Linked DNA regions of Homo sapiens. Changing the gene in region 7 together with the main gene of any one other region gives a genetic interaction. Each region holds a gene or a part of one and is shown on either strand. Other genes may lie near its edges.

What was found.
Region 1: changes in ETAA1 (region 7) and FZD2 are lethal when combined (synthetic lethality), as found in Homo sapiens cells (one large-scale study listed by BioGRID).
Region 2: changes in ETAA1 (region 7) and KRTCAP2 are lethal when combined (synthetic lethality), as found in Homo sapiens cells (one large-scale study listed by BioGRID).
Region 3: changes in ETAA1 (region 7) and C15orf39 are lethal when combined (synthetic lethality), as found in Homo sapiens cells (one large-scale study listed by BioGRID).
Region 4: changes in ETAA1 (region 7) and PAGE2B are lethal when combined (synthetic lethality), as found in Homo sapiens cells (one large-scale study listed by BioGRID).
Region 5: changes in ETAA1 (region 7) and ZNF839 are lethal when combined (synthetic lethality), as found in Homo sapiens cells (one large-scale study listed by BioGRID).
Region 6: changes in ETAA1 (region 7) and PATJ are lethal when combined (synthetic lethality), as found in Homo sapiens cells (one large-scale study listed by BioGRID).

What each region holds. Positions count from the first base shown.
Region 1 is NC_000017.11:44,556,105-44,560,513, forward strand, and holds the start of FZD2 (frizzled-2 precursor), read left to right. Parts: upstream 1-1,379; 5' UTR 1,380-1,584; coding exon 1,585-3,282; 3' UTR 3,283-4,409. UniProt on the Homo sapiens protein: Receptor for Wnt proteins.
Region 2 is NC_000001.11:155,170,169-155,174,498, forward strand, and holds the start of KRTCAP2 (dolichyl-diphosphooligosaccharide--protein glycosyltransferase subunit KCP2), read right to left. Parts: upstream 3,137-4,330; 5' UTR 3,057-3,136; coding exon 3,053-3,056; intron 2,725-3,052; coding exon 2,570-2,724; intron 2,461-2,569; coding exon 2,397-2,460; intron 1-2,396. Other genes in the region: TRIM46 (tripartite motif-containing protein 46), read left to right, coding at 3,799-3,861. UniProt on the Homo sapiens protein: Subunit of STT3A-containing oligosaccharyl transferase (OST-A) complex that catalyzes the initial transfer of a defined glycan (Glc(3)Man(9)GlcNAc(2) in eukaryotes) from the lipid carrier dolichol-pyrophosphate to an asparagine residue within an Asn-X-Ser/Thr consensus motif in nascent polypeptide chains, the first step in protein N-glycosylation.
Region 3 is NC_000015.10:75,200,184-75,204,712, forward strand, and holds the start of C15orf39 (uncharacterized protein C15orf39), read left to right. Parts: upstream 1-1,698; 5' UTR 1,699-1,876; intron 1,877-4,529.
Region 4 is NC_000023.11:55,073,423-55,078,040, reverse strand, and holds the start of PAGE2B (putative G antigen family E member 3), read right to left. Parts: upstream 3,012-4,618; 5' UTR 2,927-3,011; exon of another isoform or gene 2,785-2,926; intron 2,022-2,784; exon of another isoform or gene 2,008-2,021; coding exon of another isoform or gene 2,000-2,007; coding exon 1,916-1,999; intron 1,473-1,915; coding exon 1,364-1,472; intron 643-1,363; coding exon 517-642; intron 1-516.
Region 5 is NC_000014.9:102,318,375-102,322,777, forward strand, and holds the start of ZNF839 (zinc finger protein 839), read left to right. Parts: upstream 1-1,371; 5' UTR 1,372-1,391; coding exon 1,392-1,679; intron 1,680-1,698; exon of another isoform or gene 1,699-3,858; coding exon of another isoform or gene 3,859-3,960; intron 3,961-4,315; exon of another isoform or gene 4,316-4,390; coding exon of another isoform or gene 4,391-4,403.
Region 6 is NC_000001.11:61,745,268-61,749,103, reverse strand, and holds part of PATJ (inaD-like protein), read right to left. Parts: intron 2,006-3,836; exon of another isoform or gene 1,972-2,005; intron 1-1,971.
Region 7 is NC_000002.12:67,403,769-67,407,604, reverse strand, and holds part of ETAA1 (ewing's tumor-associated antigen 1), read right to left. Parts: coding exon 2,270-3,836; intron 1-2,269. UniProt on the Homo sapiens protein: Replication stress response protein that accumulates at DNA damage sites and promotes replication fork progression and integrity.

The DNA.
Region 1 (4,409 bases), on a different chromosome or scaffold from region 7:
AATTTAAAATCCTAGAAGGGAAAAGAAAAATTCTAAAAGTAGCAGGAACCCTGCTGGCCACACCCCACCCCTTACCAGGTGAGAGATGTGGAGGGGATAATTCACCACAACCCCCCAGTTTCCTCCCGCGTCACACACGCCACCCCTCTCTGGTGTGGAACCACTTAAGATTTGGGTAAAACTCCCCTCTCGCCCTGGAGACGGGATCTGGAAGCTTTTAGGGGGCGGAGGTAGAGGTGGGGAGGCAGAAGGAAAATTCCCTCAAACGTTCGTCAGGCCTAAGAGAGTCGTCCCTTCACTCAAAATTGCCCGTCACCCCCCGCCCCCCACCATTAACTTTCGATTAAGACCTCCTCCTTAGGGCAACTAAACTTTACTTTGCACAATTAAGATTTGCCGCAGAAGAAGCGGGAGGGAGAAGCCGCAGCTCCGGGCCATTCTCCTTTCCCTCGCTCCCTCCAAGCCCCCCGCCCCAACCCTCCAGCTCCGGGCCTCCGAGTTCCTGAGTTTTCTCACTTTGAGGTGCCACCGAACACAAAGAACCATAATGGGCTCCTTTGTGTTGGCTACGGGGCAATTACGCCTCGGAGTCCTGGTCCCTTTAAGAGTCTCTTAAAGAGACAGGATCCCATTTTTCAGAGGGTTTTTTAAGGGTGTGTGGAGGGGGAGGGCGAGGGATCTACGTGTAAAGTGAAGTGAAACTTTCGCCTGGGCTCCAGAAAGAGCGGACAGAAAAGGTCTTTGTAAATTGTTAGTTTTTTTAAAGTCTGTTTTAATTTTTAAATTTGAGATTTTTCACTCGATTTGAAAAATTGGACTAGGAATAGGTGGGGTTCGAGGATCGGGGGCGGGGGCAAGGGTTTAAAGAGTCCCCACCCGGCAGAGCACCTCGGCCCGGGAAGAGGAGTGAGCCAGGGTCGAGTAGTGTCCCCCGATCTCGCCGCGGCAACTCCGGAGAAATCCCGGGCTGGGCAAACAGCCCTTAATATAATAATAGCTTGTCTCTTTAAAAAGCAAAAGGGGGGGAAAGTTTTGTTGGCATCTGGTTTCTGATCTCATTATGTTGTGGTCGACCAATCCAGCCCTCGGGCCTGGTCCTCGGGTTTAAATCTGATTGGCCGAGAGCACATTTTGGGTTGGTGCTTAGAGCTCGACGGGGCGGTTTCAAGGATCCCTTTTTTGGGGGGCTGAGGAGAGGGCGGGGCCGCCAGCGGGGGCCCCCTTGAAACCGACTAATTGGGATCGGAGAGGCCGAGGTGAGGGCTGGAGGAGGCACAAAGAAGTCGCTGGGTGCAGAAGGGAGGGGAGAGGGGGAGCTGAGAGGCGAGAGGAGGAGGAAGAGGAGAGAGGGCAGCAGCGCGCGGTGTCTCCGGCTGCTCAGTCCGACCGCGGCAAGCAAGCGGGCAGGCGCACCGCCCCCTCCCCCGCCCGGCCTCCCCAACTCTGCGGCCGCGAGTAAAGTTTGCAAAGAGGCGCGGGAGGCGGCAGCCGCAGCGAGGAGGCGGCGGGGAAGAAGCGCAGTCTCCGGGTTGGGGGCGGGGGCGGGGGGGGCGCCAAGGAGCCGGGTGGGGGGCGGCGGCCAGCATGCGGCCCCGCAGCGCCCTGCCCCGCCTGCTGCTGCCGCTGCTGCTGCTGCCCGCCGCCGGGCCGGCCCAGTTCCACGGGGAGAAGGGCATCTCCATCCCGGACCACGGCTTCTGCCAGCCCATCTCCATCCCGCTGTGCACGGACATCGCCTACAACCAGACCATCATGCCCAACCTTCTGGGCCACACGAACCAGGAGGACGCAGGCCTAGAGGTGCACCAGTTCTATCCGCTGGTGAAGGTGCAGTGCTCGCCCGAACTGCGCTTCTTCCTGTGCTCCATGTACGCACCCGTGTGCACCGTGCTGGAACAGGCCATCCCGCCGTGCCGCTCTATCTGTGAGCGCGCGCGCCAGGGCTGCGAAGCCCTCATGAACAAGTTCGGTTTTCAGTGGCCCGAGCGCCTGCGCTGCGAGCACTTCCCGCGCCACGGCGCCGAGCAGATCTGCGTCGGCCAGAACCACTCCGAGGACGGAGCTCCCGCGCTACTCACCACCGCGCCGCCGCCGGGACTGCAGCCGGGTGCCGGGGGCACCCCGGGTGGCCCGGGCGGCGGCGGCGCTCCCCCGCGCTACGCCACGCTGGAGCACCCCTTCCACTGCCCGCGCGTCCTCAAGGTGCCATCCTATCTCAGCTACAAGTTTCTGGGCGAGCGTGATTGTGCTGCGCCCTGCGAACCTGCGCGGCCCGATGGTTCCATGTTCTTCTCACAGGAGGAGACGCGTTTCGCGCGCCTCTGGATCCTCACCTGGTCGGTGCTGTGCTGCGCTTCCACCTTCTTCACTGTCACCACGTACTTGGTAGACATGCAGCGCTTCCGCTACCCAGAGCGGCCTATCATTTTTCTGTCGGGCTGCTACACCATGGTGTCGGTGGCCTACATCGCGGGCTTCGTGCTCCAGGAGCGCGTGGTGTGCAACGAGCGCTTCTCCGAGGACGGTTACCGCACGGTGGTGCAGGGCACCAAGAAGGAGGGCTGCACCATCCTCTTCATGATGCTCTACTTCTTCAGCATGGCCAGCTCCATCTGGTGGGTCATCCTGTCGCTCACCTGGTTCCTGGCAGCCGGCATGAAGTGGGGCCACGAGGCCATCGAGGCCAACTCTCAGTACTTCCACCTGGCCGCCTGGGCCGTGCCGGCCGTCAAGACCATCACCATCCTGGCCATGGGCCAGATCGACGGCGACCTGCTGAGCGGCGTGTGCTTCGTAGGCCTCAACAGCCTGGACCCGCTGCGGGGCTTCGTGCTAGCGCCGCTCTTCGTGTACCTGTTCATCGGCACGTCCTTCCTCCTGGCCGGCTTCGTGTCGCTCTTCCGCATCCGCACCATCATGAAGCACGACGGCACCAAGACCGAAAAGCTGGAGCGGCTCATGGTGCGCATCGGCGTCTTCTCCGTGCTCTACACAGTGCCCGCCACCATCGTCATCGCTTGCTACTTCTACGAGCAGGCCTTCCGCGAGCACTGGGAGCGCTCGTGGGTGAGCCAGCACTGCAAGAGCCTGGCCATCCCGTGCCCGGCGCACTACACGCCGCGCATGTCGCCCGACTTCACGGTCTACATGATCAAATACCTCATGACGCTCATCGTGGGCATCACGTCGGGCTTCTGGATCTGGTCGGGCAAGACGCTGCACTCGTGGAGGAAGTTCTACACTCGCCTCACCAACAGCCGACACGGTGAGACCACCGTGTGAGGGACGCCCCCAGGCCGGAACCGCGCGGCGCTTTCCTCCGCCCGGGGTGGGGCCCCTACAGACTCCGTATTTTATTTTTTTAAATAAAAAACGATCGAAACCATTTCACTTTTAGGTTGCTTTTTAAAAGAGAACTCTCTGCCCAACACCCCCACAAGGTTTGTAATTAAAACTGTAAATAGTCTTTGTAAATTTAATTATATATATTTTCTATTTAAAAGAAAAAAGGAGAAAAAAAAACAGGGGTGTGGGCGCCAGGACTGAAGAATGAGGTGTGTGTGTGTTGGGGAGTGTAGTTGGGGGGAGGGTTCTCTTTCTTAAGTGCCCTTCAAAACCCGCCCCACTTTTGGAGTTTTTTGGTGATATGGCAGGGCTGGGCCTGATGGGAGAGGCACCCAGCCTGAGCGCTGTTTTTGTTGGCTTTGAGTCGTTAGGAGTTTGTTCCATTCAACTAATATAAAAGCCAAATTTGTGAGCCTCCTCTCTGACGCTGGGCCTGTGGAAGCCGTTGGATATTTTTGAACAGGACTTGGATTCGTTTTGTTTCCTTCCCCCTTTTCTTTCCCTACTCATTTGTCCTGTCTTCTTCACTCACTCTTGGAAAAGTCCCAACAGAGATGAAGACGTGGAAAAAAAAATCGGGGTCGGGGTGTGCTGGTGGGGAGAGGGCAGAGATCCGGTGAGGAATGGCTTCCACCCCCTGGCCCATTCCCCTGCAGGCTGGAAGATCTTTCTCCTGTCTGGCTTCTCTTCTTTTCAATTCGCTGCACCAAGTGCTTCCAGTGGCCCAAAAATGCTTTTTGAAGTGTGTTTTGAAACAGCCCCCACCAACATACACCCCACCAGGAGTACTGATCCTGCCTCCCTTCATGTCTAGGGGAAGCATTCGCCTTTGAGCACTTGTTTGCAAATCTGGGGAGTTTGAGACCTCCTAGCATCTCTTCCCTTCTTTCCCTGCAGTCTATTCACTCCCGCAGCCAAAAATCTCTGGCGTTCAGGTTAGCAGTTTCTGGGTTGGTTTGTGTGGGTTTTTGTTGTTGTTTGGGGCTTATTTTTTTCAAAAAGTGATAAAGACGGGTGGGTTGGAGGGAGGGGACTGATGGGCTGGTGGGCTTTTTAGTTTTCCT
Region 2 (4,330 bases), on a different chromosome or scaffold from region 7:
ATTGAATTAAAAAAAATTTAGCCAGGTAGTACAGTGGTACACATGCCTGTAGTCCCAGCTATTCAGGAGGCTGAAGTTGGAGGAACCCTTGAGCCAGGAAGTTCAAAGTTGCAGTGAACTGTGATCGCACCACTGCACTCCAGCCTGGGCAACAGAGTGAGACCCCGTCTCCAAAAAAAAAAAAAAAAAAAAAGAACATGGATGTAGATGTATGCTTTTTTTTACCAGCTCTGCCCCATATCTCACATAACTTCCCTACCCTGGCTTTCCTCCCATAAAAGGAAAAAGGAAAGGTGATGGACAACAGAGTCTGAAGGGCAAGGTGTGTTCCCATTTGGGGAACCCAGTTAAACCCTTTCCAAAAGAAGCCAGACAATGAGAGTCAATTCATTAAGCTGGGTGACCAGTGGTGGAAGTTGAAGGCCTTGCTCCCTGGACACAGGTTGGAGGGCAGAGTGCTTGGATCTACTTCTTCATGGGGGCAGGAAAGGATTTTAGGTTACCTGGAATATGATGGGAGAGAAGGTGAGAGGACAAAAGCAAAGACAAACAGGGCCCCACCTGCCCAGGTGGAGAGGGCAGAGAAGGCAAAGTGGGCCAAGAACTTTGCCCCACCACAATGGCATCTTTTCTTTTTTTATTATTTTTTTTTATTTTTGAGGCAGAATCTCACTCTGTCGCCCAGGCTGGAGTGCAGTGGTGCAGTTTCAGCTCACTGCAGCCTTGATCTCCTGGGCTCAAGCGATCATCCCACCTCAGCTTCCCGAGTACCTGGGACTATAGGTGCGTACCACCATGCCCGGCTAATTTTTGTATTTTTTTGGAGAGACAGGGTCTCTCTATGTTGCCCAAGCTGGTCTTGAATTCCTGGGCCCAAGCTATCTGCCAGCCTACACCTCCCAAAGTGCTAGGATTACAGGCGTGTGCCATCCCACCCAGCCAATGGTTTCTTTCAGAAGCAACTGAAAAGCCAGGCACAGTGGCTCACCCCTGTAATCCCAGCACTCTGGGAGGCCAAGACGGGTGGATCACTTAAGGTCAGGAGTTCAAGACCAGCCTAACCAACATGGTGAAATCCTATCTCTACCAAAAATACAAAAATTAGCCAGTTATGGTGGCGCACGCATGTAATCCCAGCTACTCGGGAGGCTGAGGCAGGAGAATCGCTTGAACCTGGGAGGCAGAGGCTCCAGTGAGCTGGGTTCACACCACTGTACTCCAGCATGGGTGACAGAGCGAGACTCCATCTCAAAAAAAAAAAAAAAAAGAAGCAAGTGAAGGTAATACATATGGAAACAAAACCTAACAGAGAGAAGTCCCGGGGCTACTGGATGGAAAGAACTCTGAAGCCTGCAAAAGGGCTATGCGGAGAAAGCAAGTCCTAGAGGGGGGCAAAGAAATGAGGGCAGCCAGGCACAGTGGCTCACACCTGTAATTCCAGCACTCTGGGAGGCTGAAATAGGAGGATCACTTGAGCCCAGGAGTTCGAGACCAGCCTGGGCAATGTGGTGAAACCCCATCTCTACAAAAACTTAAAACAGTAGCTGGGTGTGGTGGCACTCACTGGTAGTCCCAGCTACTGGTAAGACTGAGGAGGGAAGATTGCTTGAGACCAGGTCAAGGCTTCAGTGATCACATCCCTGCACTCCAGCCTAGGCGACAGAGTAAAGCCTTGTCTCAAAAAAAAAAAAAAAAAAAAAAGAGAAAAGATTAAGGGCAACCATGATAGATCTTTGTTTTACCACATGAGGGTTTTACATGAGATTGCATCTGCTGTGAATTTCTGAGCACGTGGCATTCCTTAAGTAATCTGGCCTTGACACTTAATTTGCTTTATAAACTTAATTCTCCATAAATAACTGAATCATCAATTCTTGATTACATGAGCAATTGAACAAGAATTATTCCAAACAGGAAATAATCTAACAGTTATTCTGATTTGGTCAGGATTCCTGCTGCCATAGATATTTGGTGCCTCTAGTATTTAGGCTCTTCACAATTCCCTCAAATAAGTAGAATTCTCTAATATTGAGTTAACTTCACATCAGAACTCCATAGTGAACTTGGTCCTGCTGCTTCTTCTGGTGGGAACAAGGACCGCCTCCCAGCGAATAGATGCAAAACATCAGCCCAAATTTGCCTGTTCCCCTCAAACCTTCCCTGGGAGCTGGCCAGAAGGTACCAAAGTTTCTTGCTTTCAAAGGCCTTCTCTTCCAGCTCCAACTCCAGGAGCTATACAAGGTGCAGAATCGAAAAGCGTCATCTGTCTTCAGACAGCTTCAGTAAATATATTTCTCCTTAACAACCTTTCACCTAAGCATCTGGAAATTCAATATCATGTTTCAGGAGGTTAAAGAGGAGAAAGTTCAAATACTCAAGCTCCAATATTCACTTACTCTCAGGGAAGATCTTTGCTTGGAATCCTTTGCCAAAGACAAGATTCTCCAGATTATTGAAGGCCTGGTTGAGGGAGTTAAGGAGTAGGGTGTGCAACGGGGACAGAGCTGTGTGGGGAAGGGGAAGGGCACATGCCTACGTGGCCCGCCCCCTCCAACTGCAGGGAGGATACAGTGAGCGAGAACACGAAGAGACCCGAACCAAGCAGGCCGCCCTGGATGGTGAGCCACTCGGTGGAGGCCAGCTGACGGCTGTACATCTGCATCCCAGCAAAGAGCAGCAGGGACAGGAGGGAGGAGAGCGCCAGCGAGGTGCCCGTACCCACCACTGGAGGGGATGGGAGAAGGGACGGAGAGTCAGGCTCCGCCCTCCCTCCGGCAAGCTACGGGCAGATCAGCCGGTCCGGAAGCTCGGTGGGCCGACCCCCTCCAAGAACTCCCGGGACTGCAGCCACACGCCCCAACTCCCCACACCGCGCGGCAACCCCTACGTATTCCCCAGCCCCGGACACCCCGAACCCTCCCGTCCGGTGGAAATGCCCGCTCCCGGTGGAACCCAGGACACGTCAGCTCTGTCGGGAGAGGACGAGGAAAGCTTGTCCACCCAAACCCCGACCCCCTCTAGGACTTCCTGGGGACCCCACCGGTCCTGTTACCCATCATGCCCCGCCCGTGAGTCCAACCGGCGCCTCTGGCCAAGAAAGGCGAGCTGAACCGGGTGCGGTTAGCTATGCGCATGCGTCAGCGCTTACCGCGGACTTGCTACTCCTCGCGTTCTCCTCTTTCTTCCTCTCAGTGCCTGGACGCAGCGCCCTCTTGCGACAGGGAGGAAATAATGCGTCGAGGGGGCATCCTCGGCCACCGCCCTGGTCCTCAGGCTTTCCTCGTACCTGGTGCGTCTGCTGCCACTCTGTACAAGGTGCACTTATCTCTTTAAGTCATTGGGCCCATGCCTGTGGCATCTATCCCATCTCTGTCTTCTTTGCCATTTCTTTCATCTCTAGTGCACGTTCCTCAAACCTCCCTGCCCCATGCCTCAACATCTCCCAACCTAAAATTTAGTGCTCCCAACCAGGAACTCATTTTCCTCCGAAACTAATCCCCCGCTTTATATGAGTAAAATTAGGAGCCAATGAAAAATGAGAATGTAAGAAATGGCTCCCCCGTCAAATACCTTTCCATATTCCCCAACCCCCCGACCGGCTTTCGAGAACCACGTGGGGAGAACTATTTCCCACCCCCTACCCCGACGGGCGCTGTTCGAGGCTGGTCCCGGGAGCATGCGCAGTGACACCTCAACCCCCAGCCCTCCTCACACCCCCACTGGGCTCCTGCATTAAGCCCGGGGTTCGCAGCCGCAGCCGGGATCGGGCACCCAGGGGCGGGCGGGCACGGTAGGGCCATGGCAGAGGGTGAGGATATGCAGACCTTCACTTCCATCATGGACGCACTGGTCCGCATCAGTGTGAGTTAAGGTGGGGTCGAGGGAAGGGGAGGGGGCGTATAGGGTTCTGGGGCAAGCTGGGACCTGGAACAGGTGGGGATCCAGGAAGATGCTGGGATGTAGACAGGGGGCTAGCGATGGCAGAAACGGCTGGGAGGGTCGGGATGCAGGTATGAGAGGGTAATCCCGGGAGCAGCCCGGAGGTGAGTGCCGTGAAGGCGTCGGTGTGCTGGAGCGTGAGGAGGAGCTAGGAGCAGCCCAGACGCAGCGGGTGGGCTGGGGTGGCCTCCAGCAGTGCACCGGGGCTGGGGCTTCAGGGGAAAGGCCCTGTTATGAGAAGAGGGACGTGTGAGCTTGGATATTTTCCAAGAAAACTGAGGACAGGTGGGGGATGATGTAGGAGCCGCCCCACAGTGCAGTTCCCAATTTGGACCCCTCCCCAAGACCCCACCCCACGCACCCCCACTCAGGGCTGCTTCCGAGCCTGCGG
Region 3 (4,529 bases), on a different chromosome or scaffold from region 7:
GCCTCCTTTCTTTGGCAGTCCAGGGTGTTTAAGTGATGCCGAAAAGGAACAGACATACTGTTGAGTGGGGCTGCTGTCTGTGTGAGGTGTCCCTGAATTAACACAAGGCTCAGCAGTGCTGCAAATCTTAACTAGCCCCTATTGTCTCAGATGGCTGCTCATCCTGGCCTGGTTGGGTCCCATTCCAACTCAGGGAAATTGGAGAGACCACTGGGCACATCTGAGCACACAACCTGAGCGTCCTAGACCCCAAGGGCTAAGAACACAGCCCTCCTTCCACCCCACTAGCAGGGCAGGGACAGGGTCGCCGGCGCGGTGCTGGAGGAGGAGGGGCGAGCAGAGTTGGTAAGGGGCAAGAGCAGTGAATAGCCTGTGACCCACGGGGCTGCAGGCTGGGGTTAAGGGTATGATGTTTGGTGTGACCCCTAGCTGTCCGCGCGCAGATGTATTTTCCTGACGCTAAGGTGTGGCTGCAGGAAGGGCCCCAGGCTGGGAGCCAGGAGATCTGGGATTTTGTCCCAGCCTGCTGAGTGACCTGGGGAAAGCCCCAACCCTCTCTGAGTGTCTCTCCCTATATGGTTCCCGACTCTATTTCTAAGGTCCTTCCAGCTCTAAATGAAGTGACACTCTCCCCCCACCTCCCGCCCCCGCTCCCCAGGTGACCTCACTTCCTCTTCCTACCTGCAGCGCCCAGCCCCTCCTCCTCAGCTCCAGCTGCTCCAGCTGCTTGGTGATTCTTGGAACCTGCAGCCTCAGGCCTGCTCTGCTCTGACTCAGGCAGAACTTACCTTTGGGATCTGAGGGGATAGTTTTGCTTCCTGAACTGACTCTGACCTTTGGCATGTCCACCTGCCCTCCCCTTCCCCACTGCACACACCTGTTCCCAGTCCTCGGGCAGCCCAGGAGCTTTGACGGACCAGATTCCTTCAGATAAAGTAGCAGCACTGAGGGGCTCTCATCCACAGTCAGATGGTCCAGGGAGAGGCACCCCTTCCCCCCTCCAGCCTCTCTTTGCAACACACCATTCCTGGCTGGGCGTGCTCCACTCCACCCGCCTCACAGGCTGCGCGCCGGTCTGCCTCATGGAGGGAGCCTCACCCAGGCTACTTTGCAAATCCCCCAGCACCCTCATTCCCGGCCCTTCCAGGGATGGGGAGATTGCCGCTTCCTCAGACAGTTGCCGTGCCCTAGCAGGAGTCTGGAAATTGCCCTCATTGACTACAACGAAATGAGGGGACAGATCAAGGAGCCCTTCTCCAGCCCCCTAATACACTAGTGCTGGACAGGGGAATGCCGGCACCTACTGTGTGCCAGATATTTGCAAACACCCTTTTCCAAGCTTACACCGCCACCGCTATGAGGAAGACAGAATTCCACTTTTGCAAATAAGGAAACTGAAGCTCAGCGAGGTCAAGCGGCAGGCGCAAGGTCACATCGCAGCAAGTGGCAGTGAATGAACGATCTAAGGGAGCGACTGAGGGCGCGTGACGGGCCCGCCGGGCACTGGTTCGTGGAGCGTGGCGGTTACGGGCGGTGCACAGCGCCCGCAGCCCGCTCCTAGCGAGCTGGCCCCACGCGGGCCCTCCGCACCCGCTGCCCACAGGAGCGCAGGCTCCCAGAGGCGGGGCCGGGCTCTTCCCCAACCCTGCGAGTCGCCCCGCCCCCGCCCCGCCCCCAGCCCGCCCCGCCCGGGACCGCAGACGGCGCCCAGCGGCGGCGCGAACGGCAGCTAGGAGGGTTGCTCCGGGCTTGGTGCTCACTGCGACTTCCCGCGCAGGGCCCGGTCGGACTAGGACCCGCGGCCTGAGAGACGCTGGAGGATGCGGACGCGGAGGCCGCCTGGGGTAGCGGCGGCGGGAGTCCTGGCGCTCTGCAGGTAGGAGCTCGCCCGCTCGGCGGGCGCGGAAACTTGGGCCGAGTTTGCGGGCGGCGCGTGGAGAAGGGGCGGGTGGCGCTGCCCCAGGGCGCCCCTACCGGCCGGCCCGGGGACTGAGGGAGCCGCGCCTGGGCCGAGGGGCTGCGGCTTCTGGCTGCCGCCGGCCCCCCGCGAACGGGCTGCGGGGCAGGGGTGGCGCTGCTGCTCCGACTTTCCCCGGACTTCGAGGCTCCCGGGACCTGGTAGCGCTCTGGGTCTCCGGCGGAGAACAGGCGCCTAATCTGGCGAGAAGGAACTCAGGCCGAGCCCTCCGGCCTCCCGCAGGACCCTGTCACGTGGATTGCTGGGGGATGGCGTTGAGGAGGAGGTATGGGGACAAGGGGGCACTGGAGGGCTGGGCCTGGGGGCGCCGGGCGCTGAGGCACCGCGGGGCCCTGGACGCGCCCTGCTGGGATGGGACGGCCCTGCGGTTTTCTCGCCACCTCTTGACTCACCCCTCTGGCCTCAGCCCAGGCTGGCAGGATCGCCCTGAGGCGGAGGCTGCCCGGACCCTGTCGCCGGGCCGCCCCTGTTCCGGGACCTCCCGCCGGTCCGCGGGCGTCGGTGTGGGGCTGGGTGCGCGGGCCTGCCTGCGTGCACACGTATGCCCGGGGCCCGAGCGAGGGGAGAGCGCAGTTCTGGAATGGCGTGTGTGCAGATGTGGGCCATGCACGTACGTGCAGGCACGGGTTTGCATGCGTGGCGGCGGCCTGTGTGTCAGCCTGCTGGATGCACGTGCGTCTCGGCGCCGCCGGGAGGGGCTTGGGGACACCCGGAAGCCCGCCAGGTCGGGTGCGGCGGCAGCCTCTAAGCGAAATCGGCTGTGGGCCCTAGGCACCCGAGTTATGTTCAGGGCGGGTAGGGGAAAGGGGATAGAGACCGATCCCGTTCGCTTTCCCCTCCACTGGAGACTTTGGGCTGCCCCAGGTTGGGTTGTAGCGTCTGGAGAGCCCAGAGCCTCAGGTAGGGAAGGTGGGAGATGGGAGAACACTCGGCGAGGCCCGATCCAGCCCTCCGGGAGAATCCAGATGCTGGCCACAATTGGGCAGGAATCGCGCTCTTCTTCCTGGTCTTTGCCATCGGCCATCCCGAGGCCCCTAGAAGGTGAAAGTGGGAACAGAGAGCTGTTTCCTTTCCCACTGCGTAAGGCAGGGGCGGTGCTGCGGTGGTGGGCTCTTCTCCGGGACCCTGGCCTGGGTGCTGGCTGAGTGACGTTGGAGCTTGGCAGAGAGGATCAACAGAGCTGCCTCTCAAGGATGATCTGAGCCTGCTCCCTGGGCACCTGCCCTTTCCGAGAGCTTGCTTGCCTCAGTATGGGTCAGGGAAGGAGGCACCTACATTTTGGCAACTGTCTTGAGTGGAGGAGTCGTCTCCCTTGAGAGAGTGTATCCTGGGCTTTCCACCTCCTACTGGCAGGAGATCAGGTCATTCCCACACCCCTAAGAGTTCTCTGTTGGCTCCCTGAAGCCGCCACCCCTCCCACAAAGACTCCTGAGGGTCCCAGGTGGTTTCCTGTCTATTGACTGGGTCCCAGATAGGGGCCTCAAGAAGTCTCCAGAGCAAAGGGTATTCCATGGGCTGAGACCCAGGAGAGAGGGACTCCTGGGGTGGGGGTGGGGACCCAGCAGACCCCAAGAAGCATGTGGGGGAGGTGAGACCAAAGTCAGTACTTAACCCAGAGTGTCCCAAGGGTGGAGGTGGGGAGGATCCACACTTCAAAACCCTACAGTTCCTTCTCACAGCATTGCTGTGGAGTGAGATGGGGGCTTTCACCCCTCGATAGCAGGTTTCTATCATAGGACACTGCTGTTGGGACTGTCACCTGTGTCCTAATGGCCCCTCTGTGTCTTCTCTAGGCTGGCCTGAGGTGTGGGGTTCTGTCCAGGAGATGAACCAGCTTGCTTTCTGGGTCTGCCTTGGTGGAAGTGGGCATTGGCCCCCACACTAGCCTTGTGTTTTCTAACCCCAAAATGTGCCGGTCTAACTCAGCCTGTGGCTGTCATTGGCTCCAACCAGAAGAGGCAAGGAGAGGGCTGGTCCTTGCTTGCCAGTCACTGAAACCTGTGACACTTTGCCCTAATCATAGCAAGATTGAGCTAGGTGGTCCTTTCTAAGCTACTGAGAGTTTCCAGGAATAGGGTGCTGGCTGGGGGAGGTAGAGGTAGGTCAGTGTGGCCCCAGAAGACAGGCTTCAGATGAGCCCCTAACGGGTTACTGGGTGCCTGCTGCCCTGAGGGGCCTCAGTCCCCATCCTTCCTTGGTCTTGTCTTAGAGCTTTGTCTTTTTTCAGCACATAGTTTTTCCATCAATACAATGGGAGTAGTGGCTAAGTAGCACTCTGGCCCCTGGGGCCTCCCTCCCTGGACTTTTTTCTTTTCTTTTCTTTTCTTTTTTTTTGTTTTGTTTTTTGTTTTTTGTGTTTTTTTGAGGTGGAGTCTCACTCTGCTGCCCAGGCTGGAAGTGCAGTAGCACAATCTTGGCTCACTGCAACCTCTGCCTCCTGAGTTCACGCAATTCTCCTGCCTCAGCCTTCAGCGTAGCTGGGATTACAGGCATGCACAACCATGCCTGGCTAATTTTTTTGTATTTTTAGTAGAGACAGCGTTTCACCATG
Region 4 (4,618 bases), on a different chromosome or scaffold from region 7:
GGCTGTTGGTAAAATGACTTACATTTAAAAGTCAGAACACGTTTTCATCTTTCTTTAAAAATGACACATAAAATTGTATATATTTATCATGTAAAACATGACGTTTTAAATATATATATATACACATTGTAAAATGGCTACATCAAGCTAATTAATATATGCATTACTTCATATAGCTGTGAAGACACTTGAAATCTACTGTTTTAGCATGTTTCATATCTTTCATATCGTAATCCAATTAGCTTTGACCCAATTTTTCTCCATCTCTGGAAGTCCTGGCCTCAAGTGATCTTTCTGTCTCGGCCTCCCAAAGTGCTGGAATTAACAGCATGAGCCACCACACCTGGCCCTCTATCCCTGATAGTGTGTAAGGCAGCCATTTGGGGTCTGAACTACATTCAAAGAACCTTCAGACGTGAAGTATGATATTAAAGTAGCAGTAATTTTACCTCTGTGTCACACAAAATACTGTGAAAATAGAAATACAATAGTTTGCATCTTAAATGAATAACAAACCTGCTTCCAGCACTTTAGTGAGATCAAAAGTGGGCATAATCCCCTCCCTGACATCAGGACCATCTCCAGGCTCATCCTCTATCTTAAGCAGAGCCAGTTCCTGTTGAAAAGCTTCCATGTCAGGCCCTTAAAAGATAAAAAGGTCATCAGTTTACAAATTAAAACATGAACTATGAACAAGGAAATGATAATATTTATTCCCTCATCATTATGAAGTAAAAACCTGTAGGCTAATTATTTCAGGAATCTGCTGCCAGGAAAACAGGAAAGCAGAGATGTTCAAACATTGCCCTTTCCTTTCCCAAGGCTGGCCCTAGACAACTTACTTGTCCCTTTTGTACTCATTTGTTCTTATTCTTATCACATTAAATCAGCGATTTGTTTGAGTCAATCTGACTAGACTATGAGCTTTAGGCAAAAATTTGGCACTGACATCTCCAGCACTTAGTATATTACGTGGTATGAGGAAGCATCAATAAAGGTGTGTTAAAAAGTTTCTTAAAAAATACATGACGTGTCCACAGATGGCAGACTAGGAAGCTGCAAGCTGCCATTCTTCCACAGCAACAAAAAACAGAAAATGGCTGAACAAAGCATACAGGAGCTCTGGAAAAAGGTTTATGGCAACCATGAAAATACCCAATCAATAAAAAGCCTCCGTCAAAGTGGTAGGAAAGCTTAGTGGCTTTTTATGCGTCCTTGTCCCACCCCTCCACACAGCAGCAGTAGGAAATGTTTAAGATTCCTTCCTAATGCTTTCTGTCCTCCTGTTACTGGTATGTCATAAAATACAATGCATAAATAGACCTCCACCACCCATAAGCATTATTCTCCACTCTCCCTTCACCTTGAACGGCAGGTGCTCCTTCATTTTCGATCTCCCCACTAGGTGCAATACCCTGATTATCAGTTGGTGGTTCCTCTTCTTGACGTTTTTCCTCAGTGGGCTCCTGGACCTAAGGGTGTAAGTGTGTGTGTGAATAAAAAGTCAATAATATAAATACACAAATGCATATGTGCATCGAATCACACATCTAAAGACATTTTTCCAACATATATAAACACATATATATGTATATACATATATGTATATATACATACATACGTATATACATACATATATACACATACATATATACATACATACATACATATATACATATATACATATACACACACACACACATATATATATATAGAGAGAGAGAGAGAGAGAAATATCCATATCCATACAGGTAACACCAGAATATAATATTCCTGAACCAACGTTTCCTTCATGAGATGCCATCATCATTTTTTATCAGCATGGAACACCTGTATCAGTGCGTGTACACTAGCTCAAAAATATTTCTTAAAATAAATTGTGTTAATAGGAAACATCAAATGTTAAAGGACTCACAATCACAGATCCAACTGGCTGGGAAGACTCTTGGTCATTTCCTCTTTCTGAGGATTGGGATCTTGTTCTCACATGCTCACTCATATTTCCCACTGAAAATAGAATACTGTTATTTGGAAAAAGTGTATAAGAACTTAGCTATATATATGAACATTCCATGGCAAAATGGTGATTTGTATTTTTTTAATTTTGAAAATATTTTCAACGTAATTCACAGAGCATTGATAAGTACCCACGCTTTCCAATCAAACTAAGGACAGATTTGTTTGTATCATAGTCGAAGAGGCATAGAAATCCCCTTAACGCCATAGCAAAAGACAGAGGACATTTCTGCGTTTTGGTTTCACAATTAGACTCTCCATCATGAAGACATTTGGGGGAAAAAAGGGCAGAGAATTGAAACTGAAATGACTACTGCTTTTGTCCCACTCTGATTTGCTAGGCCCATTTCACCCCCACACCTCTCTCAAAATCAAGTCTTGTTGGAAAGCACAGCCTCGCCCATTCCTTCCATGGCGTCCATGGCGGAGGTGAGAAATTGTGAAACAGAGTGAACGTTATGCTCCTCACGGGACACCTCTGCCAGGCACTCTACAGACCTCGGGGCCACAGTCACCGGCCCACAGCGTTCCCAGTTCCCAGGCCCCTTCCTTACTGACCACATGGTCTCTTCCCGCGTCCCTACCGAGGAGTCTGGAAACTGTCCTCTCTCAGAGGGTTCCAGGAGTTTTCGAGACTCAGACACCTCTAACAGCACCCCCAGCACTCGCCCCATCTTCACGCGATCCCTCCCCTCTGTGGCCCACCTTCCTCCCTCGTCCCTCGTCCCAGCCCAGCCACGACGACAAGTCCCACGGTGGCATCCCGACCTGGGAGGGGCCGGACGACGACCGCGAGGCCCTTTTCCCTCGGAAGCCACGGACTGTGCCGCAGGACCTGTCCAAAGCCAGCTGGCTCCTCCACACATTCACCCACAACTAAATTCCCAGGAAGACCGCTCTGCGGACCTACCGGCTGAGTCTCGGTCAGTGACAAAGAATCAAGATGGCGGAAAGAATGAAGACACTCTCCTTGCAGAGCTGTGTGTGGACAGAAGGCGGGCAGCAAGGCGCATGCGCAACAACAGACACGTGTAGCAACAGACATGCGTAACAACAGACAAGTGCAGCAACAGGTCTGTGCAGCATGCACACTGACTGGGACATTCGCCTCGTGACTGATGTTTTCCTGCGTCTGTGGAGAACCTAAACCACCAGCGCTCCTGACAACGAAAATGAACTTGCAAAGCACTTTTCTTTTTCCCCCGCCCACCCTTTCTTTCACTTCCAGTGGCTTTGGAGAATATGAGCCCCAGGTTACTCTAATAATGTGTTTCAGAAAACTTCACCATCATAGAAATAAATCTTAAATATTTTAATATCTGTTTTATATACGCTTCCATAAATCATTTTCTTGCCTCCTTCACGAGTTTGCTGTCATGCTTGCAATTGTCTAACCCATTCCAATATAAGACATTCATAGTTTTTGGTTGCATTATTGTACGTTCAAAATCTTTGATCCATCTGGACAAAATTAAAGTGGTAGGAACTCAACATTATTTGTTGAATCCCTGTTGCACCCACTGTTTTGAAATGGCTCTTTTATCATCACCTACATCCCCACTCAATTTTGTATGTAACTCTCTTCTTTTAATTTTCTTCCATTGAGTTGTTTATACCTGTACCACTACTACACTATTTTAATTGCTGTAGCTTAAATTATATTTGAAATGTGAAATAATGCTTGCCCTCCCTCATTGATTTCTCCTTTTCTATCAATTCTGACACGTTGGTCTTTCAGATGAACTTCAGAATCATTTGATCAGGTGCTAAAATATTCCTGTTGAGATACTAGTTATTATTTTTATATTACATGTTAACTCTGGGACAATAGCCATCTTCCTATTTTAGAATCTCTCTATCAAAAAAAAGCCACTCCTCAATTCCTCAAGTCTTTTAACATATCCCACACAATGACTGTGTTATTTGCTTCATATTAGTTCTTCACATTCAAATTAAATTTATTCATGGGCACTTTTATTTTTCTATTCCATTGCTGACACGTGTTTGCTTCTACTCCACTATGTTTTTCACACAAGTCAAACAATCTGTTTGGAAACCATGTGATTCTATACCTAGAAAATCCCAGAATCTCTGCCCAAAAGCTCCTTGATCTTATAAACAACTTCAGGAAAGCTTCAAGATACAAAATTAATGTACAAAAACCAGGAGTGTTTCTGTACACCAACTACCTTCAAGCACAGAGCCAAATCAGAAACACAATCCCATTCACAATTGCCACAAAAAGAATAAAATACCTAGGAATACAGCTAACTAGGGAGGAGAACAATCTCCACTATGAGAACTACAAAACACTGCCCAAAGAAATCAGAGATGACACAAATGGAAAAACATTCCATGCTCGTGAACAGGAAGAAGCAATATTTTCAAAATGGCCAAACTGACCAGGGAAATTTATAGATTCAGTGATGTTGCTATTAAACTACCAATGACATTCTTCACGGAATTAGAAGAAAACTACTTTAAAATTCATATGGGATGGTTGCGGGGATCTGGCAAGATGGCGTAATAGGAAAAGCTTTGGTCTGCAACTCCCAGCGAGACCAACACAGAAGGCAAGCACTTTCTGCATTTCCAACTGAGG
Region 5 (4,403 bases), on a different chromosome or scaffold from region 7:
GTAATCTCAGCACTTGGGAAGGCCGAGGCGGGCGGATCACCTAAGGTCAGGGTTTCAAGACCAGCCTTACCAACATGATGAAACCCCGTCTCTACTAAAAATACAAAAATTAGCCAGGCATGGTGGCGGACGCCTGTAATCCCAGCTACTCAAGAGGCTGAGGCAGGAGAACCGCATGAACCCAGGCGATGGAGGTTGCGGTGAGCTGAGATTGTGCCACTGCACTCCAGCCTGGGTGACAGAGTGAGATCTTGTCTCAAAAAAAAAAAAAAATTGTGGTAAGATACCCATAATATAAAATTCACCATTAAAAAATAACACGGAAGGGATCATCGTGAATGCAATGTGAGTATTGATGAGGATGGTGGTGATCTTCCAGAACCTTCTCTGACGCCACCCAGGCCGCCAGCCTTACTTTACCGGCTTCGGCGCTCATCATACTGTGCTGCAAATGCCAGTTTCCTCCTTCCCCCTTGGGAAGTTTCCTCCTTGGGGGTCGGCACCTAGACTGTATACCCCCCAGGGCGGAAACAGCGGTTCACCCACCAGGTGCTTAAGAAGGGTTTGTGGACCAGTGGACCTCCTGCTCTCCCTGGGGAAAGGAGCTGGGACATGTGTACACACCTGCAGCTACAAGATTCGGAGGGCGCACAGAGCCTCAACCGTAAGAAGGAGAGGCGATCAGGCTGAGGAAGATGGGGCAGTGGAGCTGGATGGATAGAGAGAGGGTGGGTTCATTCATTCGTTCACTCATTCGTTTATTCATATTCATCCATCCATCATTCATGCCCTGAGCGTGCGTTGTGTTCTGGGCAGGGCCTGTGCTGGGCACCGATTGTGTAATATATCATCTCTCCCTTCAAGGTGCACCCAATCTGGGTGGGTGGGTAGAGAGAAGCTACGGTGACAAGGCAAAAATTTGGGAAACACTCTCGTTAACAATTCAAACTGTGGTCCCCTCCCAGATGTATAAATCCAAATGTTTAGGGGTGGGCACAGTACTCTGCATCTCCAGACAGCATCCTCCGCTGATTCGGATGCATGATGACGTCAGAACACTTGGATATTGTGGTAACTTTTGGGCCAGGGGCTCTGAAACCCCGAAGACCTCCCCCTGGGAGATCCGGGACAGCTCCCAGAGAAGGTGAGTCTTAAACACATCCGTGACAGGCAATAAGGAAAATAAGGGGGGTCCGCTCTGCTGATCAGCCCTAAGAGCCGCGGCGGTTGTCGGCTGGGGCGGGGCACTCCACGACTTTCCCGGCCAGACACGGTCGCCTTCCTAGGTGTCTTGGCCTGCGAGGCACTCGTAGCCCGCCCCTCTCCTAGGTGACGTACATTGGAGACGCCGTCGCTCAGCGACCCGGGTTCGAGTCCCCGCCTCGGCCGCCATGGCGGATGCGGAGCCGGAGGCTGGGGGCGGCAGCGAGGATGGCGGCGGCGGCGGCGGCCCGGCTCCTCCGGGCCAGAGCGGCAGCGTCGCACGTGTGGCCCCGCTGGGCCCCGAGCAGCTGCGGCAGGTCCTGGAGCAGGTGACGAAGGCGCAGCCGCCGCCGCCGCCGCCCCCCTTCGTGCTGCGGGACGCGGCGCGGCGGCTGCGGGACGCGGCCCAACAGGCCGCCCTGCAGCGGGGCCGGGGCACCGAGCCCCCGCGCCTGCCGCGCCTGCTCCCGCCCCAGGTGAGGCGTCGGGAGGGACGTGGGGAAACTGAGGCCCGAAGGGGGCCGACGCCCCGCGGCGGGGTAGCTGCTTGTCCGGGGAGGCCAGTATCCGCCCGGGTTAAGACTCAGGGCGTCCCCAGGCTGAGCTTCTTAGGGACGGCGTTCGGCCCCCACCTGTCACCACCCTGGCATTTTCACCCCAGGAGCCTCACTCTAGGAGCGGTTGCTCACGCTGGGCCCTGTGCCTGGAACGCCCTCGTGCCTTCTCTGCCTTCACAGCCCTGCTGGGGGCTTTTGCGTGCTCCCTAGCTCTTCTTACAGGCCTTTCACCGCTGGTTCAGCCTTTGTGGAGCACTTAGAGACCGTGTTCCCAGCACTCCCCACTATGTGCAGGAGGTGAAGCCTTGAACACACTTGCTGAAGAACGAACATAAGGCAGGTTCTGGGATTGACGGGGGCTGCTTTAGAGTGGGTGGTCCCGTAGGCCAGACACTGGAGCTGAAACATAAATGAATTAAAAGGAACCAACTTAGCTTTTCAGTTGTAAGGTGCCAAGGCCCAGGCTTGGAACAAAGTCAAGCACAATACACTAGTTCGCTGCAGGACTTAACATCCTGGGTGATAGTGACTGATTTGTAACCGCAGTACCCAGCACAGTGCCTGATACACAATGTTTGGAATATGTGAAAGCACTCTGTATACTACAAAACATCCTTTCCCAGTGGGTTTATTTCCTGGGCCACACACCTTTTGGTTGCTAGGGGGGTGATAACTAGAAGACGGTCGCCCAACTCCGGAGGGTGAAGCATAGCGCCTGAAGCCAGAGGGCCTACACGGCATCTGTAAAATTCCACCCCATTTCAGCGCTGGGGTTGTAAACAAAATTAGTCTCACCCCAAAATTGCCAAAAGAAGACAGCTTTTTCCACTAGAAGAAACGGGTTAGGGAATAGAATCAGGAACCTTCACTCGTTGAGTTTTTTTGACTGATGTTAGCTGCTTAGGGTTGTATCCAGTTAATCATCAAGACTGGAGAGTTGTCTTGCTAAGGTTTAGGAAGACCAGTGTGATTCTGTCCAGATGCCACACTATCACTATCTAGAGGTGTGACCTTGGGTAAGTCAACCTTTTTGGACTTTGGTCTGGGTCAGAAGGCTGCAAGGTGCCATCTGGGGGCAGCTATCTGCAAAGCCTCTGCTCTGCGCCCGGCGCTGTGCGGGGCCGCTCAGTTTTCAGCAGTGTTTTTGTACCGGCATTTTGCAGGTGGGAAACAAGCTCAGGGAGGTTGCGTGGCTTTGCCCAAGGTCCCTCAGGTGTGGCTGCTCTCCCTAGCCCCTGTACTCCTCACCATACCCTGCTGAATATGGCCACAGCTTTTTGGGTTTGGAATCCAAAAATGACATATTTTTCGTAAAGCAAAAGCAAACTTATTCGAGCTTAGGCAGCATGATGGGATTGTATTTTGTAGCTAATCTAATGGAGACGATATAAATTCTACCTGCAATAATATACCTTTGCAGCACATTCTTTTAATACTCTTTCAGCCCCAGCTGTGTCATGGAGGCCACAAAGGCAAACCGGATGCGTACTTTGCCCCTCAGTAGTTTATGAACTAACAGGAGATGAAACAAGACCCAGATAACTTCTAGTCAAGGCCAGAAAGCTAAAGATAGTGAAAAAGAACTGAATGTATTTAGAGAAAGGGAGATTGTTCCTGGCTGAGGACATCAGAAGCAGCTTTGTTGAAGAAGTGGTATCTGAACTAGATTTGAAAGGGTGCGTCTGAGTTGAAAATGCAGAAGGGGAGAGGCAGGTTCTGGGGCGGTTGGGGGTGCATTTCAACAACCACAGCAGAAGGCCCAGTGTTCGCTGTGGGGGTGGTGTGGATCAGCAGCACAGACCAATGGACACACTTGGGTCAGATCGAGGCCCCTGTCTCTCCCCATCCTCCCTCTTCCCCACCCCACAGAAATTTCCAGTTCCATCCAACATGCTGTGCCCCTTTTCATGCATCCGTGCATTTACACATGGATGTGTGCCCTTTTTCACCTGGCAAAAATTCCCAGCCTTCAAAATGCCCCTCAGAGATCACAGCTTCTGGGCAGCCCACCACCTCTGGGCTGTTCCTGCCTCTTGATTGCACCTGTTGTACCATGATGACATTTTTCCTGTCTGCCTCACCTGTCTGCATTCCTTAGGGAAGCTTGTCTGCCTTCAGAATCATCAGTGGAGCTTTTGAAAGGGCAGATCTTGGGGCCTCACCCCAGGAGATCCGATTCAGCAGGTCTGCGGGGACTGAGGTATGGCAGGGGAAACCGCCCCCATCTCAAGGGTGAGGTTAGGACTTGGCTCCTGTGTATGTATTCCACCCAGAAATACTGAGTTAACATTAGCTGAATTAACTAAACAAAGTATCAAGCATAATACCCACAGGGTAAGCCAGTGAGGATAGAGGATAAATACATTATTAGTCTGGCTTTGCCGCTGTGGTTATCCTCAAACAGTAGGGTTTAGTGTATGTATGTATATGTATTATGTTTTTGTTTTGGGGTTTTGTTGAGACAGGGTCTTTCTTTCTCACCCAGGCTGGACTGATCTCGGCTCACTACAGCCTCGAACTCCCAGGCTCAAATGATCCTCACACCTCAGCCTCCCGAGTAGCTGGGGCTACATGTATGCACCATCATGCCTGGCTAATTTAAAAATGTTTTGTAGAGACAGGGTCCCGCTATGTTACCCAGGC
Region 6 (3,836 bases), on a different chromosome or scaffold from region 7:
TTGGGAGGCTGAGGCAGAAGAATTGCTTGAACCCAGGAGATGGAGGTTGCAGTGAGCCAAGATGGTGCCACAGCACTGCAGCCTGGGCAACTCCATCTCAGGAGAAAAAAAAGAAAAAAAAAATTACTTCATATGTATACTGCAAACACTAAAGAGGATAATTTAGAGCATTTGGCCTAGCACATGGTACACATTCAACAAATGATAACTACTATTAGCATCTCTTTTCAATCAAAATGATTTAAAACATGGCAAAACCCCATCTCTACAAAAACAAAAACTAGCTGAGCGTGGTGGTGCGTGCCGGTGCGTGCCTGTAGTCCAGGCTGAGGTGGGAGGAACCCTTGTGCCCAGGGGGTCAGGGCTAGTGAACCATGATCATGGCACTGCAAAAGCTAATAATTAAATTATTGTAGCAGAGATTTTAGTGTGTAATCAGTAAGTTAGTTCTGAGAAGACTGAAAAATAAAATGTTTCACCACTGTAGTGAGTATAAGGGAGGAGGTTATAGAGAGGACCTATAATTTGGAGTATTAATCCATTTACATGGCCAGGCGCAGTGGCTCACGCCTGTAATCACAGCACTTTGGGAGGCTGAGGCGGGCGTATCACTTGAGGTCAGGAGTTCGAGACCAGCCTGGCCAACATGGTGAAACCCCGTCTGTACTAAAAATACAAAAAATTAGCCAGACGTGGTGGTGCATGCCTGCAGTCCTAGCAACTCAGGAGGCTGAGGCAGGAGAATGGCTTGAACCTGGGAGGCAGAGGTTGGAGTGAGCGGAGATCAAGCCACTGCACTCCAGCATGGGCAAAAGAGCAAGACTCGTCTCAAAAAAAAAAAAAAAAAAAAAAAAAAAGGCATTAAGGCAGTATACACATAGCAGTGTAAGTGCTTTGGTAAACTAAACCCTCTTAAGAATAAACATATTCAGATCAGTGGCTCACACTTGTAATTCCAGCACTTTGGGAGGCCGAGGCGGGTGGATCACGAGGTCAGAAGTTAGAGACCAGCCTGAGCAACATGGTGAAACCCCGTCTCTACTAAAAATGCAAAAATTAGCAGGGTGTGGTGGCGCACGCCTGTAATCCCAGCTACTTGGGAGACTGAGGCACGAGAATCACTTGAACCCAGGAGGCGGCTCCAGCCTTCGCAACAGAGTGAAACTGTGTCTCAAAAAATAAAAATTAATAAGATATTTTAGATTCCTTTTTACATGAAATCTGTTCAAAATCTTGTGTGTATTGTGCATTTACAGCACATTTCAATCCTAACTAACCCAATATAAAGTGGCCCATGCCCACGTGTGAGAGTGGCTTACTGTAGTAAAGTTTTAATCTATGCCTTTCCAGAAAGATCCCTGTTTGGTTTTGTTTTTTCTTCCTCCACCGTGTTTTTAGGAAAGACTTCATCAGTTCAGCTCATATGGTCTCTATGCCTTTTCTTAAAGTAACTATCTGAGTAAGAGCACTCACAAACTTGAGTTCTTCCCAATAAAAAGATCACAACTCCATAATTTTACCGGAATTAAACATAAGGGAGGAACAAAAAGCAGGAGAATAACAGCTTACAGATTACAAGACACATTCTTGAACATTCTTTTCTTTCAACCTCGCCAAATCTCTGTAAGGCAGACCATTTGCAAATGGGACCAGATTCTGGAGGACCAGAATTAAATGACTTGTCAAGCGTTATATGGTAGGTGGACCCAATTCCTTGTCTCCAAACTTTACTGGCTGGACAGCTGTACGAACACAAAAAATAAGTGAGCTCTACATCTTCAGCATCGATCTATCCCACTGACTTAAAAGGAAGGGTATTGACAGGCACTAAATTTCTCCCCATTTGCACCGGAACCTAAAATAAGGGCTTTAAAAAAGGCATCCAAATCTACACAAAACCCTAAGGAAGAAAACATAGCAATGGTCATGCAAATACCAAGGTAGATTGGTCCCGTTTCTCAAAAAACTTACCAAGTTGGCTCACCAAGGGGAGCAAAGTCTTAAGTGAACAAATTAAATCCCACTTTGGCTTCCCCAACCTAATATATTCTTGTTAAACTTTAACAAAGCAAGTAAATTCAGCCTGCTGGCTCCTCAGTGTAAGGATAATTATTAAATGCTGTTAAGTAAAAATGCAATTGTAAGAACTAGAAAATGCTGAGTCATTGTCTCAGAATCACAAGGTTCTAAATGTGAATTCACTATGAGAACATATATACAGATTTTTCTCTTTAACTTTAAAAATGCAATCTGAAAGAAAATACATCCTAATGTTATTAGTGGTTATCTCTCAATAGTAGTCTGTGTACTTTTAGTTTCTTTTTTGAAAATTTTCTCCAATTTTTCTACAATGAATATGTTAGCTTTATAGTTACAGAAATATTAATGTATGGCTTAAACTTATTACGGTTTCATTAAATGCAGAATAGAGCTTAATTTTCTATTCAGCTTCAAACACAACTATTTTTCTGATGGGAAACCCATTTTATGTGACCTTGTGATATTGCATATTGGTTTTCATCCATGATTCCTGGTTTATAACTCCCATAACTCTTGTTACAGTCTTTTATTATACTGTTGGGGTGCTTTAAGTCTCAGAAGCAGTCCCCAGAAATATCTCTGACACTCTCCTGCCCCTCCTTTCATTCGCTCCTTTTTCTCCCCAAGGCAGGACTCTAATCTTCCCCTGCTTTTCCATCTTGAAGGTGGCTGTAAAGAAATTCTCTGGGCCAGAAGGGTGGCTCACGCCTGTAAGCCCAACACTTTCACAGGCCAAATCGGGAGGACGGCTTGGACCAGGAGTTCGAGACCAGCCTGAGCAATATAACGAGACACAGTCTCTACTAAAAATTTTTTAAAAGAGGCCAGGCGTGATGGCTCACATCCGTAATCCTGGCACTTTGGGAGGCCAAGTCGGGCAGATCTCTTGAGGTCAGGAGTCCGAGACCAGCCTGGCCAACATGGCAAAACCCTGTCTCTACTAAAAATACAAAATATATATATATATATTACCCAGTGGTGGTGGCGCACACCTGAGGTTGTGACGCTGAGCCAGGACAATCGCTTGAACCCAGGGAGGTGAAGTTTGCAGTGGGTGGAGATCGCGGCACTGCACTTCAGCCTGGGCAACAGAGTAAGGCTCTGTCTCAAAAATAAATAAATAAAATAAATGAATAAAAATTTTTAAAAAAAAAAATAATTGCCAGGCCCGGTGGTTCACGCCTGTAATCCCAGCACTTTGGGAGTCCAAGGCGGGTGGATCGCCTGAGGTCAGGAGTTCGAGACCAGCCTGGCCAGCATGGTGAAACCCCATCTCTACTAAAAATATAAAAATTAGACAGGTGTGGTGGCAGGCGCCTGTAATCCCAGCTACTTGGGAAGCTGAGGCAAGAGAAGCGCTTGACCCTGGGAGGCAGAGGTTGTAGTGAGCCAAGACAGCGCCATTGCACTCCAGCCTGGGCAACAGAGCAAGACTCCGTCTCCAAATAAATAAATTAATTAATTAAAATAAAATAAAGTAAAATAATTTTGGCTAGGTGCAGTGACTCACGCCTGTAATCCCAGCACTTTGGGAGGCCAAGACAGGTGGATCACTTGAGGTCAGGAGTTCGAGACCAGCCTGGCCAATATGGTAAAACCCTGTCTCTACTAAAAATACAAAAATTAGCCAGGTATGGTGGCACATGTCTGTAATCCCAGCTACTCAGGAGTCTGAGGCAGGACAATCACTTGAACCCGGGAAGTGGAGGTTGCAGTGAGCTGAGATCACCCACTGCACTCCAGCCTGGGCAGCGGAGCAAGACTCTGTCTCAAAATAAATAAATAAATAAATATTT
Region 7 (3,836 bases):
AGGGGATCAAAAGTTATACACAGACTTTCGACTGCAAATCAGATCAGCGCCTCTAACCCCCACACTGTTCAAGGGTCAACTCTATCTGTAAATAAAGTCATGCTAGGAACATGCTTGATTTAGTTACAATATGCTCACTTTAATACAAATTTAAATACTTAAAATTATTATAGATTGAGAACAATTTTTAATATTTCAAAATATCTAGTTTGGGCTATCATGTAAAGCAAGCTTGTCCAACCCGCAGCCCGCAAGCTACCCGCAGCCCAGGATGGCTTTGAATGCAGCCCAACACAAATTCATAAACTTTTTTACAACATTATGAGATTCTTTTGTGATTTTTTTTTTTTTTTTTTTTAGTTCATCAGCTGTTGTTAGTGTCAGTGTATCTTATGTGTGATCCAAGATAATTCTTCCAATGTGGCCCAGGGAAGCCAAAAGATTGGACACCCTTGGGTGTAGAGAATTATTTACTGTAAGTTTTGATAAGATAAATTGGTATAACTGCTTCGGATAGAAATTTGGTGGTATCCATCAAATTTTAAAACTTCCTCTTGTAGCAATTTTTTAGGAATTAACAGATACAATTATACAAGCATGCGGAAATTTATGCAGAAGGATATTTACTGGAGTATTGTTTGTAATTGCAAAAGACTGCAACCAACCCAAACTTCCATCACAGAGAAACAGTTAAATTATGATACATCCACCATATATATCACATAGTCATTAACAGGACTAAAATAAATTTATATGTACTAATAGGAAAAGACAGCTATAATATATTAAGGCAAAAGCAAGTTGCCAAATAGTGGGTATACAGATTTATTAATATTTAAATAGATCTATAGGTATATATATATGCATACACATATATACGTACATACACACACACATATCTTTTTATATTCATAGAAAATGCTACATCATACCAACTATTAATAGTGGTTTTCCGTAAGGGATGGTTATCAGAAAGGAGAAACAGAAGACTTAACTTTTTCCTTTAAATTATTCTATACTGTTTTACTTTTCTTTTTAAATAACTAGCATATTACTATTGTAAATTTTTAAAAAAAGTCACTTAGATAGGAAAGTTGGAACAGTAATGCCAACAAGACAGAGAAGAGTCACTAAATATTTAATTTCAACTTGTGATGAAAGCAATTAGGAAATAAAAAATAAACAAGGAGATCTATTTATAGACTCTTCAAGGAAGGCCTCTGTGAGAAAGTAGTACTTATACTGAGATGTAAGAAAGCACCAACAAAAGAGTGGGGAAGGGGTCACATGTTGAAAAGAAGTAGTTTTAGTCAAAGGGAAGAGCACGGTCTAAGTTCCTGGACAAGGAAGAAAAACATACACTGTTTGAAAAACTAAAAGATAGCTGGTATAGCTGAAGCTTAGTAGGTAAGGAAAAAAGAGGAGACGCAGGTTAAAGAGAGATAATCCACAGCTTTGTTGGTCACAGTATACAGTTTGGATTTTATTTGAAATATGACGGGCAGCCATTGAAGGTTGTTTTAAGCATAGAAACGCCATTTTTGCCCATCCAATTTTAAAAGGCTATTCCACTGTTTGGAGATAAGAATTGAAAGGAGATAGATAAAAGAACTGCAGTAGTCTCATCAAGAAATGTTAACTTGTTGTAGAAAGAAAAATGGAGTCTGGGGATACGGTTTTTGAAAGAATGAAACTTATTGATAGAATGGAGACTTGGGGAAAAGAGAAATTGGAAGAATCAGAAATGATAGCTGTTATCAAATAAGTAAATCATAATTTTAACCATCACCGCTAGCACGTTTATATCAAATATCACACTAGTAAAGACGTTTAATTAGAATGCTCTAAATTTCTAAATATTATTTACCTCACTGCTTCATCATCTGCTTCCCAGATTACTCAAGTTTTAAAACAATTTAGTAAATACAATCTTAATGAACACTATAATACATATATCTAAAGGTATGATTTTCCAAGAAAGAATAAGTTATTCAAAAAATATTTACTGAGTACCTACTATATGCCAGTCATTGTATTAAGTGCTGGGAAAGAATTCAATGTAATATTTTGAAAAATAAACCAACTACTCTGTATAATGCCGTATAATTATTTCCAAGTATCATTTTAAGAATTCTAGTTAATTCTTAAAATTAACTAGTCATAGAATAGTTTTACCTTATACATTACTCACACTCAAAAACAACAAATAATTATTTTACTACTTTTTAAGATGCTTTTCAAAGAAAACTATTTCATATTTCATACATACCTTTTGAAGATTGTTTCAAAGATTCAGAAAGTTTCACCAAAGATTGCTGTCCAACAGCTTCCTCCAGTAATGGGTTGACACCTTTCTTTTTCTCCACACCCTGTGTAATTTTGGTATCAGACATACTTCCAGTTATACAATTTTGATTAAACTGAGAAAGAATCTGAGAATTTTTCATCCTTGTAAATGTAAACTTTGAAAATCCAACTGTTGTGTTAAGGTTGCTCTGAGCTTCATCTGTTACAGTCTTATGGCATGGCTGATTAGTACTCAATTTCTTCTTATAAGTAGTAATTTCTGTATTCATATGATCTGAAGTTACATTCAAACTTGAACTTCCTGGAAGAACCAATTTGGAACTATTCACTTGTATTGGAACATCAGTGTTAGTATAAGACACATGCAGATTATTTATCTGACAGTTTGAGATCTTAGAATACATAGTCAAATTTGTGGCACCTAAAAATCTTGGAGAATTTCCATACATTTCCCCTTTCTCCATCTTCATTGGCTTATCTATTTGTGAGCTATTTGTCAAAGATGTCTGCACTGAAATGCTGCCTGGATTCAAATGCTTTGATTGTACCAAATTACTTCCTTGTTTAGATATAGCAAACATGTTTTTGGCTCCATGTTCGGAATTATTATTGATCTCACATATACTTTCTGATGTCTTACTGTCCTTTCTAATGTCTTGTTGCTGAGTTAGTTTGGCTCCATGTTCGGAATTATTATTGATCTCACATATACTTTCTGATGTCTTACTGTCCTTTCTAATGTCTTGTTGCTGAGTTAGTCTTTCAATATCATCACATGCTTGGTACAACAAATCATCATCTACATCATCTGCTTCCCAGGTATTATCTAATTGATGACATGCTTTAATAATTTCATTGGCAAATGAGGGATCATTCCAATCATCAAAGAAAGAACCTACTTTTGATGCACTAGTCTGATTTGGGTTACTAACACTGGTTTTACTGCCTAGATTTGCAGAGCCAAAAAGATCAGTATTAACAGGGGCTTTAATAGACTGATTTAAAATGCACTTATTTTTCTGTTCATTAGAATACCTTGTGTTCAAAGCTGACTTCCTTTCAGAAGCTTCAGTAGAGTTAGTAAGAATATCTTCCTTTATTTTTGTCAGATTAGATGTAACTATACAATTTTGAATTTCGTCTTGAATAACAATTTTATTGGAAGAGTTCTCAAATTTCATTTTATTTCCAGTGGATAATTTGTTTGATTTATTTGAATTTGGTGAAAATCTATATTCTGCATCTATTAATTCTCTGTCATATGTCTTTGAAGAAAGATCTTGTAATACTTTTGAATCTCCTAACCTGGCATCTGGACTTGTATTTGCTCTTGACGTATTTTTAACAGTTTTACTATTAAAGGTACAAATTTCCTTTTGATCAGTAACATGGGCTGTTTTAGAAGGAAAGAGTTCAGGCATGTCGATATTTTGCATAGCAAAAGGTTCACTACCTAGTAAGTTTTCCCAATCATCCTCAAAATCACTTGTAGTAAATGCATCAATGTACTTATTAGAAGTTTCTGGCTC